Regions from separate parts of the Homo sapiens genome. Here region 2 is linked to region 1. The links come from fine-mapping of genetic effects on gene expression. Tissue or cell type: whole blood. Region 1 holds a variant in brackets; the other region holds the start of a gene. All regions are shown on one strand. Distances are from middle to middle.

Region 1 (8,887 bases):
GCCAGTATTCTCTTTTGATTTGGAGAAAACTCCAAATCAAAACTCCACTACTTGGAGTTACAAAGTGAAGAAAATATTCCATTATAATCTGTGAATGATAGAAACATAGGTAAATCTATAGCAGACATCCCCTGTCAGATCAAACATTAGTCCTTACATTAGAAAATTAGAAAGTATAGCAAATCAACAGCATAAATCAAAACACGTACGGTGGGTTTATGTGCAGATTTGTTACACGGGGATTTTGCGTGAAGCTGAGGTTTGGAGTACGGATCTCGTCACTCAGGTAGTGAGCATATTACCTGATAGGTAGTTGTTTTACCCACCCCTTCACAACCTCTGATAGTCCATAGTGTCTATTGTTTCCATATTTATGTCCATGTAACCTCTATGTTTAGCTCCCACTTATAAATGAGAACTAAAAAATAAAAGGGATGATAAAAGACATTCATAACATATTGTGAAACACAAGCAAGGATGTCAGCAGATTACTCATCAAAAACAATGCAAGTGAGAACAAAGCAGAACAACATCTTTAACTCATGGAAAAAAAGAAAAAAAAATCTTATATTTTGGACTTCTATATCCAGAAAAAAACATCTTATAAAATGAGGACAAAATAAAATACTTGCTCAGATTTACAAAGCGTTGTTGAAACTTACAAAAACAAAAACGATTAATCATCCACAGACCCACAGTGTGAGAAAAGTTGAAGGAAGCTTCTCAGGTGGAAGGAAAATGACACCAGATGAATACAGATTTTCACAAAGAAATGTGGAGTGCAGGAAAAGAGAACAATGTAGACACATGTATAAGAAGGTTTTACAATCATTTAAATATCTTTAAAACTTAACGTACTTATTTTGTTTTTGTTTTTACAGCTTAACTTACTTTTCAAGCAAAAGTAATAACATTTATAAATCATACTTATAGTCTTAGAAAAACAAGACCTATAAATTAAAATGATAGACACAAAACTTAGTACTGTTGTTATTCATATTAAAAATCATTAAAGAGATACTTCACTTTGAAAATACATGCCAAAATGTCTTTAAATAATTTCGTTAAAAAAAGAAAAAGTGCGTGGTAATTTTAAAAAACTGATTTGTTAGCATTTTAAACTTAAGGAGATGATGAGATTTCTTTGAAGAGGTGTGTGTGAACTCCATTAGCTCCCAGAGGCATTGAACATCTTTTGAGAACAGAGGATTTTCTTGGTGGCGTTTTTCATATCTTTGTTCCTCAGACTATAGATTACTGGGTTGAAAAGTAGGGCAAGGGCCGGGCGCGGTGGCTCACGCCTGTAATCCCAGCACTTTGGGAGGCCGAGGCGGGCGGATCACGAGGTCAGGAGATCGAGACCATCCCGGCTAAAACGGTGAAACCCCGTCTCTACTAAAAATACAAAAAATTAGCCGGGCGTAGTGGCGCGCGCCTGTAGTCCCAGCTACTTGGGAGGCTGAGGCAGGAGAATGGCGTGAACCCGGGAGGCGGAGCTTGCAGTGAGCCGAGATCCCGCCACTGCACTCCAGCCTGGGCGACAGAGCGAGACTCCGTCTCAAAAAAAAAAAAAAAAAAAAAAAAAGGAAAAGTAGGGCAAGGACAGCAAACATCAGTGCAATGGCCTTGTCCAGTAATGGTGGGAATGTGACAGAGAAGCGCAGATACATGAGTGACACACTGCCAAAAAACAGCAAGAAAATAGCAATGTGGGCTGCACATGTGGAGAAAGCCTTCTGACGGCTCTCACCAGAGGGAATCCTCAGGATCACCGTGATGATTCTTAAATAGAAAAGGGTGATGACAGAGACAGAGGTCAGAATGGAAATAGCACGGATCACATCTTCAACCAGAATTATTTACGTATCTGTGCAGGCCAACTGCAGCACAGGTTCAAAGTCACAAAAGAGTTGATGAATTTGGTTGGCGCCACAGAATGGAAGAGTGGAAATGCACACAATCTCTGGCAGTAACATGAGGAAGCCAAAAATGCAAGAGCCAGTGGAGAGCTGGATGCACAGTCAAGGGGACATAGTGATTGCATAGCGAAGGGGGTTGCAGATGGCTACACACCTGTCAATGGCCATCACTGTGAGGACTAGGGCTTCTGTGACCCCGAGTGAGTGGAAGAAGTACATCTGCAGGAGGCAACCTATGAAAGAGATGGTTTTCTGTTCACTGAGAAGGTTGGAGAGCATCTTGGGGATAGTCACGGTGGTGTACCAAATCTCCAGGAAGGAGAAGACACTGATAAAACTGTACATAGGATTATGGAGATGGGGGTCCGGTTGGACAGCAAAGAAAATCATGAAATTTCCAACAAGAATGAATATATAAATAAAGAGCATAGGAATGAAGAATAAGAGGCTGCCATTCTTAGATTGAGGAAAATCAGAGAAATAAAACTCAGTCACCATTGTCTGATTCTCTGGATCCATATTTTCAGCGGTTTCACTTGTTGGCTCATAAAACACAGTCAACATTCTAAGTACATGCAAAGAACAAATAAAAACCTTCTTTTCAAGCAACTAAACAGCCTTGAAATTAGGCTGGTTAAATAAAATATACTATGTGAGTCATTTTGCAACATATAAAGTTATCCTGTCAAATTTAGTAATTATAATAACTTATGTTGTCAATTATTCTGTTGGATAAGCTAACAGTATTGCTAGTTAGACATATAAATTGGTACAAACTCCCCTGAATGGCAATTTGGCAATTTATATTGAGAGTTTAAGACTGTTTAGAGTTTAAGCCTTTCACTATGTAGTCTAGGGGAAATATTTCAGATATTAAAAAAGAAATATATGACAATATTAGCTAGAACATTTATTATAACAGTAAATTAGGAACAATTTAAGTAAGTAGACATTTTCATTTTTTTGAGATGAAGTGTTGGGGACACAGAAGAATGGGTCATGACAAAATGATACCCTCTGTGGATAAGAATAAACTCATTTTTAAGTGCGCATGTTTGAAACTAAAGTATGATTAGCAGCTTCCCTTAGTCTGACTCATTATTAACAATTGAATGAAAAGAAAAAATCCAAACATTCCACCAAATATTATTTACTTTAAGACACAAGAGGCTAATCTCATGTGACATATATGGGTATACAAATTAATCTAATCTACACTCTAAAGGGGGTGTATTAGGGTTCTCTAGAGGGACGGAACTAATAGGAGATATATATATAGTTAAAGGGAAGCTTATTAAATATTAACTCACACTATTACAAGGTCCCACAATAGGCTGTCTGCAAGCTGAGGAGCAAGCAAAGCCAGTTCGAGTCCCAAAACTGAAGAACTTGGAGTCTGATGTTTGAGGGCAGGAAGGGTCCAGCAAAGGAGAAAGATGTAGGCTAGGAGCCCAGGTTAGTCTAGTCTTCTCATGTTTTTCTGCCTACTTTATATTCTAGCCACGTTGGCAGCTGATTAGATGGTGCCCACCCAGATTAAGGGTGAGTCTGCCTTTCCCAGCACGCTGACTCAAAAGTTAATCTCCTTTGGCAACATCCTCACAGACACACCCAGGATCAATACTTTGCATCCTTCAATCCAATCAAGTTGACACTCAGTATTAACTATCACAGGGAGTTAGTTAATAGTTGAAGTGAGCTAATCTAGAAATTACATTCTAGGTGTAATTTGCAACATTTGAAATACTTTAATCAATAGTCTACCTCAAGAGGCAGTTTTGACAAGGGCTTCAAATATTCTTATCTGTATCCACACTGTAGAGTTTATTAAATAATGTAAAGCAGGTTTTGTCAATTTCAGCATTATTGACATTTTGAAACAGACAATTCATTGCTCAGAGAGAAGGCAAGGCTGTTCGTGCATTATAGAATGTCTAGCAGCCACCCCTGGTCTCACCTATAAGGTGTCAG[T/C]AGCATAGACCCCTCCCTCGTCATGACTACCAAAATCATCCTAGAAATCACCAAATGTCCCTGCAGGGAAGAAGTAGAAGAAAATTTGTGCCAGTTAAGAACCACTGGCATACAGAAATTTTTTTTAATGAAAAACCAGGTGATCAAGATACGTTGATTGGCTGAAAGTATTCCTAACCTCTGGCTTGCAGGGATATAAAACAGGATGAGCTAGGCAGCCTATAGAGCTTGGAGAGGTGCAATAGGCACATGATCCATTCATTCCTGTGTTCCCTCCTTAAAAGGGTATTTATCACCTAATCTCACTAGAAAGTTAGCTTTTCTACTGCAGAGAATTTTATTACATTTTATCTTTGATAGAAACCTTCATTTATTATACTAACCAGAAAGCATAAGGAAAAAGAGTTGAGACTTCCATGAGCTTCCAAGAAAAGGCCTAATAGTAGTATGTTTTTGCCTGTTTGCTAATAAACGTTTGTTTGCATGGCAGAATTCTGACTCTTCACTTGGTACTGAGGTGAAGATGGGACCTCTAAATGGAGAAAGCTACTGATATCTACCAAAAAAGTCAGACAACTCTGAACTGCCAATGGATACAATAAATAGATAAAATTATTTGGAAACCGTAATGCCGGAGGCTATACACAAGTAAGAACCCAGCTTGGCATATGGCAACCACAATTTTTTTTCTCTTGCTTTTTATACATACAGCAAAATAGTAAGTCTATGTTGAAACAGGAAAATATGAGGTGAAAATTCCCTTGTTTTTCTTTAAGAAAACTTTTACATAAGAAATGGAGGCTCATAAAAAATAATTTATACTCTAGCAATTTTTACCTTAATTACTCTTATCTGGGCTTATTGTTTCCAGACTTGTCTTACTACATCTCACTTTCACATAGCTACTGAAATAATCTTTCCTAAATGCAAAGCTGTCAATCCTCTGTCTGAAAACCTTATACTGGCTCTCTGTAGGGTTCCAAATCAAACCTGAGCCTTTAAGCAGAACAGATAATATGGCTGTATATGAGATTGTAAAATTATTTTGTCATCCCAATATCTTATGACTGTATTATCCCCAACAGGCTTTCCTAGTATGATAGAAAATGATACCCGTGTAATTGTTCTGTGTTCTGCTTACAGAGGCAGTAGGGAGACAAACAGGGAAAGAAGCATTAAGCTCTATGTCCAGTACCGTTTGGAATTAGAAAATTGAAATCTGGAAATTTTTGTTAAAAAGGTAGGTCTTTAGGAACTTGAGTCTTTAAGAAGGAAAGAGGATGCCTATAGGAAGGCAATTTGATATAGAGTCTTGGGAGCAAAGTTATACCTAATAGGACTCTCCTATTTTCTGTAGGAATGGATACCCCAGAATCTCAACCAGAAGCTCCACTAGTTGTCCTGACATTCCTTTATTCTTAAGAGCCTGTCCTGATGCCACTAAATACAATACAAACCTAGATTAGAATTTAGCTCAGAAAATAGTAGAGTTGTGAAAGAGTCATAGAGCTAGTGGGCCAGACACAATTTGACAGATTTAGTCCAGGTGTTTGTTATCTTACGGCAATCTCTAATTGTAGGACAAACACTCACCAAAGCCCTCCATCCCTAAGTTATGGTCCTTTCCTCTACCTCATGTGTTGTCACAATCTCAACAAAATTTCCACAAGTCCTTCTTTAAAGTCCAATAGGAAATAATATGGTTCTGTGAAAATTGTCCCCCAATATCTAGTAAACAAAGTCATTCACTCATATCTCAAAGTAGAAAGTCCACCCATCAGTCCATAGCTACCTCTTCCAGAAACCAACAGAGCCACCTCCTCTTTTCCAAATGTCTCCATCTTCATTGCTCTGCAGCCCAATAAGTAGGAAGGTTGTAACCACAGCCACACCTCTAAGCATCACAGGGAATTGCTAAGTGGGAGAAAGGCTTTCTTCTAAAGGGCTCTTTCCTGGGGGGCTTAGGGAAAAGCAACTCTATGCCCCATGAGACTAATTAGGAAAACACTTGCTGACACACTCCCCTTTCATGAGGTCAACACACCTATGGGAAGCTAGGTTTTTCAGTCAGGCTAGAAATCAGATGAAAAGAGTACTTGGCTTTCCATTCTGTCCAAGGGGTAAAAGAATAGTTTAAATTACAAAATCTGCTGAGAAAGGGAAAGGATAAGGAACAAAAGGAATGAAACTAACGCAATGTGGTTCAAAGGCAGGAGAATTTTCTCTACTCTTTGGAGCAGTTTAGTGATCACACAGCACAACCCTGAAGTGTATTGCAGAAGATTCAGCCAGCTGCCATCCAGCACAGCTTAGTAGAATTTCTTCAGAAGGATCCAGGGATCACAGGGCCATTTGCAGTAGTGGCAGTAATGAGGGGGCTCTCATGAGATTTCATGGGTTTCAGGGGTTCCAGCAGCAGATATCCCAAGTGTATGGAGTCAGGAAAGGATTGAAGGGCAACCTTTCCTGCTACATGAAAGCTGTATTGATGAGCACACATGAGCTAGACCTTGGACAGACCTGAGGAAAAAAAAAAAAAGGGCCCTCATATAGAGGACAGGAAATAGAAGCAGAAGGATACTTTTCTAATTCTTTTTTTCCTACTTTTTAAAAACTGAAATTGGACTTAATATTAACCTCCAGGTGGGTAAAGGCAGAAGAAATAGACATATACAACACATAAGATTTTTTTCTTCTATCACAAAAAGAGATATAAAACAATCACGAAGTGTTAAATGTTTAGTGGAACAGTAGCAGTGGATATAGAAATGCAACAGAATTTGAAAGCATATTTGAAATTAGAAAAAAAAAACTTATGAGACACAGGCATATATGGTGCGAAAAATGAGTCAGAGCAGAGGTGACTTTCGACTCTGAATGATTAGATTTTTAATAGGCGATTTTTAAGGCAGATCCTTGAGTGGAGGCAGGGGGACTGATTGAGGCCATGACTTCGAGGCTGCAGTGCACCGTGATCGCCCCTGTAAGCAGCCACTGCACTTCAACCGGAGCAATAGAGTGAGATTCTGTCTCTAAAAAATAAAAATAAAAAACAATAACAATAAATAAAGACAGTCCCTCAATAAGCATTCGATTAAGGAATATGTAGCTAAATAAACGAATAATTAAATGAATCGGCGAATAGCTAAAGAATCAGATAGTGACTCAAAGATAGTCTAATTTGTAGCCACACTGATGTTTACTTTTTGACCCTGATTTTATCCAGTCTTACCACTTAAGATAAATTCCTCCTCTTACGCTTTGAACCTATTTATCTCATCTCATGCAGAGACACTGTTCCTTCAGTTGTCTCACTTACCTATGTATCCTCCAAATTTTCCTCTTTTTAGTCTGCTTATATAGCTTATGAATATGCTCAAACATATTAAAGTATATACTCTTTCTCATTTTCATTGTTGCTCTAAGTCTGCCATACTGCCTTTCTTCTTCCCGATCTTATTTTCCTAAAAGCATAGTTTACTCTTTTATCAGTATTTCTGTCTCCACCTTTTCACTTCTTGTTCACATGAACCTACAACCCCACTTAAGAGATAGAATATTATGAATAACTTTGAAGACCACTACACTTTCCTCCCCAATCCAGTTCTTTATTGCCATATTACATATTACCATTCACCTGAATTTTGTGTTTATTATTCTATTTAGCACATGTGTGCACACTCAAAAACAATATACTGTTTAGTTCTGTTTTACTCTATGTAAATAGAATGGTATTTTAGGCATTACTTTATAATTTGCTTATTCACTCAACATATGTTTTGAGAATCATTCACATCAATGTATCTAGCTGCAACTTTAAAAGAAAATCCCTGCTGTCTTGTATAAATGGAGCACAATTTAATCATTCATTAGCCTTCAACGTTTTGTATTCTGGAATATTTGCATCTTCAACTTCACTAGATGCTGCCAAATTGTTTTTCAGAATCTGTCTACCACCAACAATAAATGCATTTTTATTGTTGCACATCTTTTCTAATGTTCTGGGTGGTCATATTTTTGCTACTCAGTTGTTGTGTAAACAATATGCTATTGCTTTGATTTGCAGTTGAATGTTGTATGTGTGTATGTGTGAGTGTGTGTGTGTGTGTGTGTGTACTCCTCATTTGGTTGTTTATCTTTTTCTTATTACTTTGTAGAAGCTTTTTGTATATTCTAAATAAAAATAATCAGTTATAAACGTTATTACAAATACAGACTCCTAGTGTATATCTTGTTGTTTTTCTTTTTAATGATGCTATTTGATGAAACGAACTATTAAATAGTTTTATTCATCAGTCTTTAAATTTATGGTTTATATTTATATGGAATTGAAAAATTTTAACTAAAGTTCCAATACAATTGATTAAACAATGCACCTTTTTCCACAGACCTGTTGTGCTGGCTATGTTCATCTTTTCCCCAGTGGTCTGCTATACCTACTCTCACGTATGTTAAAATCCCATACTATATTAGTCTATTTCTTTGCTTCCATTGGCTGTTTACTCCCACTGCTATTTTATTACAAATATTGCTTCATAATAACTTTTACTAAATAGACAAGTGGCACCATTTTAATCTCCTCCTTTGAAATGTCTTCTTCTTGGCCCTCATTCTTACATATCCCACTCCTCTCTACTCAAAATGAGATTTTGATTGAAATTGGGTTGAAATGATTGACTTGTAGATGATTGGCATGTTTATGTAACTGAGACATTCTATTCATTCATACAGCATATGGATCAATTTATTTATGTTTTTGATATAGTCCAATACAGTTTTATAAAGTGCTATGTTTAGATGTAACATATCTTTTACAGTTTTTTATTTTTGTTGATACTTCAAATGGCATCTTTTTATTACACTTTTTGTCAACTGTTACATATAATAATGCAATGTTAAATATATCCATTTGTATCTATGCACTTGCTGAACTTTGTGTTATAATTTGTCTTTATTTTCATTTGGAAATTTTATATCATCTTTAACTAATTTCATTC
Region 2 (6,054 bases), 25 kb after region 1:
ACTGCTCTATTTCTTTCTATGTCCCTAAAAGAAAACTCTTCCAAGAGTCGGCTATACGCATTGCCTTTAATGCCTCTCTTTAAGTTTCTTCTTAAACCCACTCTAATTAGATTTATACTACCACCACTCCATTAAAACCTCCTTTCTCATAGACATTAATTATCTAAGATTTCCTGGATCCAATGGTCATTTCTCATTCCTCAGCTTACTTGGACTATCTGTTTCTTGACAGTATTGATTTATCCAGCCTGTTCACACACTTCCTTGACTTGATTCTCGGGGTACTATACTTTTGGTTACTTTCTATCTTATTAGTCATTCCTTCTCATTCTCCAACTTTAGTTTCTCCTCCATGCCCCATCCTTTTAATGTCACAGTGCCCATGGTCAGTGTTTAATCTTTTTTTTTTCTCTTCTATATAAACTCAACTCCTCTGCTCTATACCATCCAATACCAGAGCTTTAAACACTATAAATGTGTTGAAGACATCTAAATCCATATCTCAGGCGATATTTTTCTCTGCTACTCCAGACTCATATATTTCACTGCCTACTCACATCTCCTCTTGGGAGTCGAAGAGCCATCTCAAACTGAACTCCTGGGGTCTCTACCCCTAGTCTTCCCCATCACAAATGATGGCAATTGCAATCTTTCAACTGACAAGCTAAACTCCTGCAGTCATCCTTGTTTCTATCTTTCTCTCATATATCCAGGAACTGACTATGTTTGACCACCTCGGTCCAAGTCACTTTTATCTCTCCCCTCTTACTGTAATTGACTCCTAACAGATCTCCCTACTTGCATTTGTTCACTTGTAGCCTCATCTCAACACACCAGAGTGATCCTGTTAAATTCTAAATTAGGTTCTGCGTTTCCATCGATCAAATGTGTTCAGTGACATATCATTTAAAACCTTTGCTGTAGCTCTTTCCTTGTTCTAGAATCTCTTTCACCATTTGGATAGCTCTTTCATTTATTTCATCTTTGCTCAAATTTCACCAGCTCAACTACCTGGGCCACCCTATATAACTGCAGTGTGCCTCCATCCTTACATCCATATTCTGTACTGCTATTGCCTTTCTCTACTTAATTTTTAACTTTTTTTCCAGAGGACTTGTCATGTTCTAACCTGTAAAATGTACTTATTTCTTATTCCTATTGTTTATTGGTTCTCTCCTCTTTGATTATAAGTTCCTTAAGGGCAAAGATTTTTTTCTTTTCTATTTTGTTTACTGGTGTATGTCAAGTGCCTAGAGCCATGTCTGAAATATAGTTACAACTCAATAAATATTTATGTAATTAATATGCAAATCTATTAAGATAACTGCTAATTTGCATATGCAGTAGGAGTTACAAGCCATGGGCTGGATATGGAGATAAATCAGGAAAATTTCATAGAACACATAATTTATTATTATTATTATTATTGGAGACAGCATCTCACTCTATCACCCAGCCTGGAGTGCAGTGGCAGGATCTCTGCTCACTGTAGCCTTGACCTCCTGGGCTCAAGCAATCCTCCCACCTCCACCCCACAAGTAGCTGGGACTACAAACGTGCACCACCACGCCTGGCTAATTTTTGTGTTTTTGGTAGAGATGGGGTTTAGCCATATTGCCCAGGCTGGTCTTGAACTCCTGGGCTCAAGTGATCCACCTGCTTTGGCCTCTAAAAGTGCTGGGATTACAGGCATAAGTCACCATGCTTTGCCAGAAGATATAATTTTTATTTGAAGTGAAGAAACTGTCAGAATTTTTTAGATGGAAAAATGAAATAAAAAGTATTTGAAGCAAATGGAACTGCCTGTGCAAAGGCAGAGAGTTATGAAAGACACCGAGTCTTCTCCTTCTGCCCTCCGGTCTTCTTATCACTTCTTCCCTCTCCAGGATCCTGAAATTCATCCAAACTAACTTTGTTTACTCTGATTTTTCTTGGCATTTTTCTAAACCTAGGGAGCATGTCCATCCCATATACAAAAGCCTTTCTCAATCCAAGACTTAATATAGGATGTTTCTCTACTTAGATTCCAGAGAACTACTTCCGGGCCAAACTTTTATATGGGTGATTTTGCTTCAGAATAATTACTTTATTATCCAAAATTTCTTTGTCTTAGTTTTTCTCACCGCATATCCATGTCTATCCACTGCCCAATTCTGCCTTCTGTTTTCTTCAAGTCTTGAATGCATACCTGCCTTCTATAAAGGATTATCCCTAAATTTCTACTTCTTCTCAGACCCTTGTTTTCTAGATGTTCTATATTCCTTCCCTTCTAAATATAAATAAAAGGTTCTATTCTAGAGCTGCCTCTTTCCTTTTCTGGCCTCCAGTCCCACTCACAGATGAGTTGTCTAGACTGTGAGCCCTTAACTAAATTTTCAGATCTACATGGATGGCTGGTCAGAAGATTGAATATGAGAAGCCAGTATTTTGTCGTCTCCTTTCTCAGAAGGTAGAGTTTCCACATAACTCCAAAGACTTATTATCACACTATACATTGTATCATCACTCATTAATGACCTGCTGTTGTTCACTCCCTCCATACTCTGCCTAAGCAATCAAAGTCATCAGGATCCGATCAAGTATTATTATTTTCCACGGAAAACTAGCACCCCCAACTCCCTCATCTTCCAAGTTCACAGTTCTCAGAGGTTTGGACCATTTCCTTCTCTTTTTCACACCCCCTTTAAGATGGCAAAAAATACTGATGATTTTCCCTTTTTAAAAAATTTATTTTATTATTTCTAATTATGATTGTAACTGCTAGTACTGATAAACCTTAATTTAGTGTTGAGAGAAGCTTTAGGAACTATCACTTTCCAGTGGCCCCCATAATTTTGGATTTCACTGGATTGTTGGAATATCTGAAATGTATTATATATTTCCAACAGCTCATAAAAAGAAAAAACCTTTAAATATCACAAAAAGGAAGGCTAAAATAGAAGGATAAATCATGTGTATCAAACTTCATATTTGTACTTATGTTTCTAATTTTGATTCAGCCCAGCAAAAACTCATATCTTCTCACTCATAAAGGAATCCATATCGCCACAAATGGGCATCAACCCTCTGCCTGGATTTACAGCACTGGAAGCTTCCTGACCCATAAGACAGTTCTCTCCATTTTTGAAATGTTTTAGTTTACAACTGTCCTTTCCAATGACCAGAAACCTGGCTTTCACCATTATTCTTTGTTTTGCTCTGTGAAACAACCCTATTGCTCTGGTCCAGAGTCATGTGTTCAAACATTCTTTTCATCACCATTATAGCAATTTCAATGTTTGCCAAGTGGGTTTCTGTATTTAGCCCAGACTCCTTTGTTTGCAGTGTACCCTCACTAAAAATATGCTTTATCTTTTGTCAATCTGAAGACACTTGAATCATTTTCTAGCTCAAGTCTGTCATTTTTTTCCCTGACCATCTAAGTTAAATACTGTTCTTTCACACTTCTAAATTCTCAGTAGTACTTTCTCACTGTCCCTCCAATTATATCCTGTAATGCACTGCAATTATTTTCCAGGCATATGTCTTATCACTCCAAGGCAACTCTCTGTGAGCTTTTTGAAATTAATGAGGAAACTTCATACCATGTCCTACCTCCTAGAGTACTTAGCACAATGCCTGATATATCCGAGTTATGGTGGGTAATGAAAAAGAGGGCAATTGAGATGACTTGTGCAGCTCTTTAGCTCATCAGTTACTCATCTACTCCTATTCCTGATATTGGAATCAGGGCTCTCATAAAACCTACCACATATACAAATTTACATTTATCTTACTTAGGTCCATTGAAATCATAGTTTATTCCCCTAATTCTAGAAAGCTTTTAGAATATATGCCTTGCATTCTTTTCTTCAGATACCACAGCTGCATTATTCATAGTTCATAATTGTTTAGGCATAGGGCCAAAGATCTGGGGGTAAGAAGGGAGATGCAATTTTAGAGATTATCACACTCAACGTCTTCATTTAAAAAACGAAACAAACAAACAAACAACAAAAACTGGGATCCAGAAAGGGGAGAAGACTTGTTCCAGTTTACACAGTTAGTTAAAAATATAGCCAATTTACTAATTTTGAAGCCAGACTCTTCACTATAGCATTTGAAAAGCAGAATATCTGTTTTTAAAAATAGTTTCTGTGTTTCAATTATGTGTTTTATGGACCCTGATTATTCAAAAACCTCTCCATATTTCTGAATCCTCTAGGTCTCTTAGTGATCAGACTAAGAAGGAATGTGAAGATGAAAATGCCTGCTTGATAAAGTCTTACCTAGAGATTGTTGGTGGGGAGTGCTCTGCTAGAGCTTGACTCTGGAAGCCCAGCCACTGCTCGGAGTCCGAAGTTTGAAGAGAACTTCCTGTATACTTCCTATGTCTCATTTGCAGTATTATACCCAGCCATTCCCGGGGCCTGGAGGGGTTGAAGTTTATCACTTTGATGGAACCTGTGGGAATAAGTTAAACCATAAAACAAATTCTTCTCCCATAAAACCTGGATTCTTGATAGGGACCTCATAGAGGCAGAAGCCCATGGGCCTTCTGAGCAGACCTCCTGGGGTCACTAAAGTGCTCTCTCAGGAAGGGAACTGACATACAGCAAGTTCATTAGCCAGTAGTCCTTCATTACCTATTAGTTACTACAACAATAACTACCAGTCCAAGTTGAGATAGAACATGTCTCAAGGCAATTACTTCCTTTAGTAAATAACAATAACTGGTGTGAAAACTAGGTTCAAATGGGTTCCTGTACTGCATGACTTGGGAGTAAGCATACAACTTTCAATTATGATAGGATCTTTATAAAATTTGACTGACCTTCTTTGACCCTGAAAGGGTGAGGACAGGGAGACACTGGGGACATAAATATCATCAAGACCGACTCCTAATCTTGTCTGTTGCTCATATTTATAGCCGTTATATGTTGTCTTACACACTGCAGTCTCCTCTCTACTCTAGTGTTATCTGCTCCGTAAAGAGTGCTGCTTCAGAATCTTGGATACAATCCCAGCCATTCTTCCAAATACTTATGAGACATTAGGCACCTCACTGAGCCATGGTTGGCAATATTGCCAGAAGGGTGGATTTTGAATACTCTTGCCACAAAATAAAAATGATAAGTACTATATGTGAGGTGATAAATATGTTAATTAGCCTAATTTGATCATTCTACTCTGCATACATGTATCAAAACATCACATATATAATTATTTGTCAGATAAAAAATTTAAAAAGTATAAGGAAGATTTACTTTCCTCAGATAAAATTAATAATCAAATGTGATAATGTAAAAAAAAGTACTTACAAACTATAATATGAACTATGAGAAGAATTAAATAATTTTTGTCACTTTCTCCATCCCACCCACACTTTCAATATTCTTCATCAAAGTTTATATTTTTCTATCTCCTAATTTATTTCTGGAAGATTTTTTTTTTTCAAACTGAGTTGCCAGTATTTAATATTTTGTTTGTGGTAAATAGATATTTAACTAATAACTTAATTTTTGAGTCAAAGTATTATTTTGTTTTTTGACTAGTATACGTAGAGTTTAAGTAATAATTTTATTTACTTAATGACTAGAGGTTTATTCAGGTTTTCTAAATCCCTATAAGGCAATTAAGAGTTAAATACCCACTACCTTTTAAATTAAATTTTCCACATCTGTCAGTTTCATTTCAATTACTTCTTTTCTGTGAACTAGAATATCCTCTATTCCTAAAATATATCCATCAATTCTGCTACCCTCCCCTCCAAATGATATTCTGTCTCTATATGTGTTGGGGTAAATGTTTAACAACTGACTCCTCTAACAAAGATTCTCAATTTCATTGAACTCTAGTTCTCTTTTTGACTAAACCTCAGCCTTGGCTTACAAAATCTATAGACTGTCAGCAAAAATGATTTCATCCACCCTCCCCATCTTCCCTCCCCCACCACATGTATTAAAAGACTTAAACAAACACTAACATAGTTTCTAAGAACTCAAGGCCATAGTCTATCCTAGCACCTCTTTAAGTGCCTGCCTGAGAAAATTCAAGGCTACCAAAATAATTTAT

What was found. PIP is the estimated chance that this variant, and not a neighbour inherited with it, causes the effect.
Region 2: OR6N1 starts here. The variant in region 1 is fine-mapped to the expression of OR6N1 in whole blood (INTERVAL, PIP above 0.99).

Annotation. Positions count from the first base shown.
Region 1 is chr1:158,740,978-158,749,864 of GRCh38, forward strand. It overlaps the pseudogene OR6K5P. Among named protein-coding and RNA genes, the nearest start is that of OR6K6, 9.3 kb to the right of the region's middle. The variant T/C (reference allele first, on the strand shown) is at 3,891.
Region 2 is chr1:158,767,753-158,773,806 of GRCh38, forward strand. OR6N1 (olfactory receptor family 6 subfamily N member 1) reads right to left here and starts at 4,443. Exons shown (of 2, transcript NM_001005185.2): 1 at 4,269-4,443.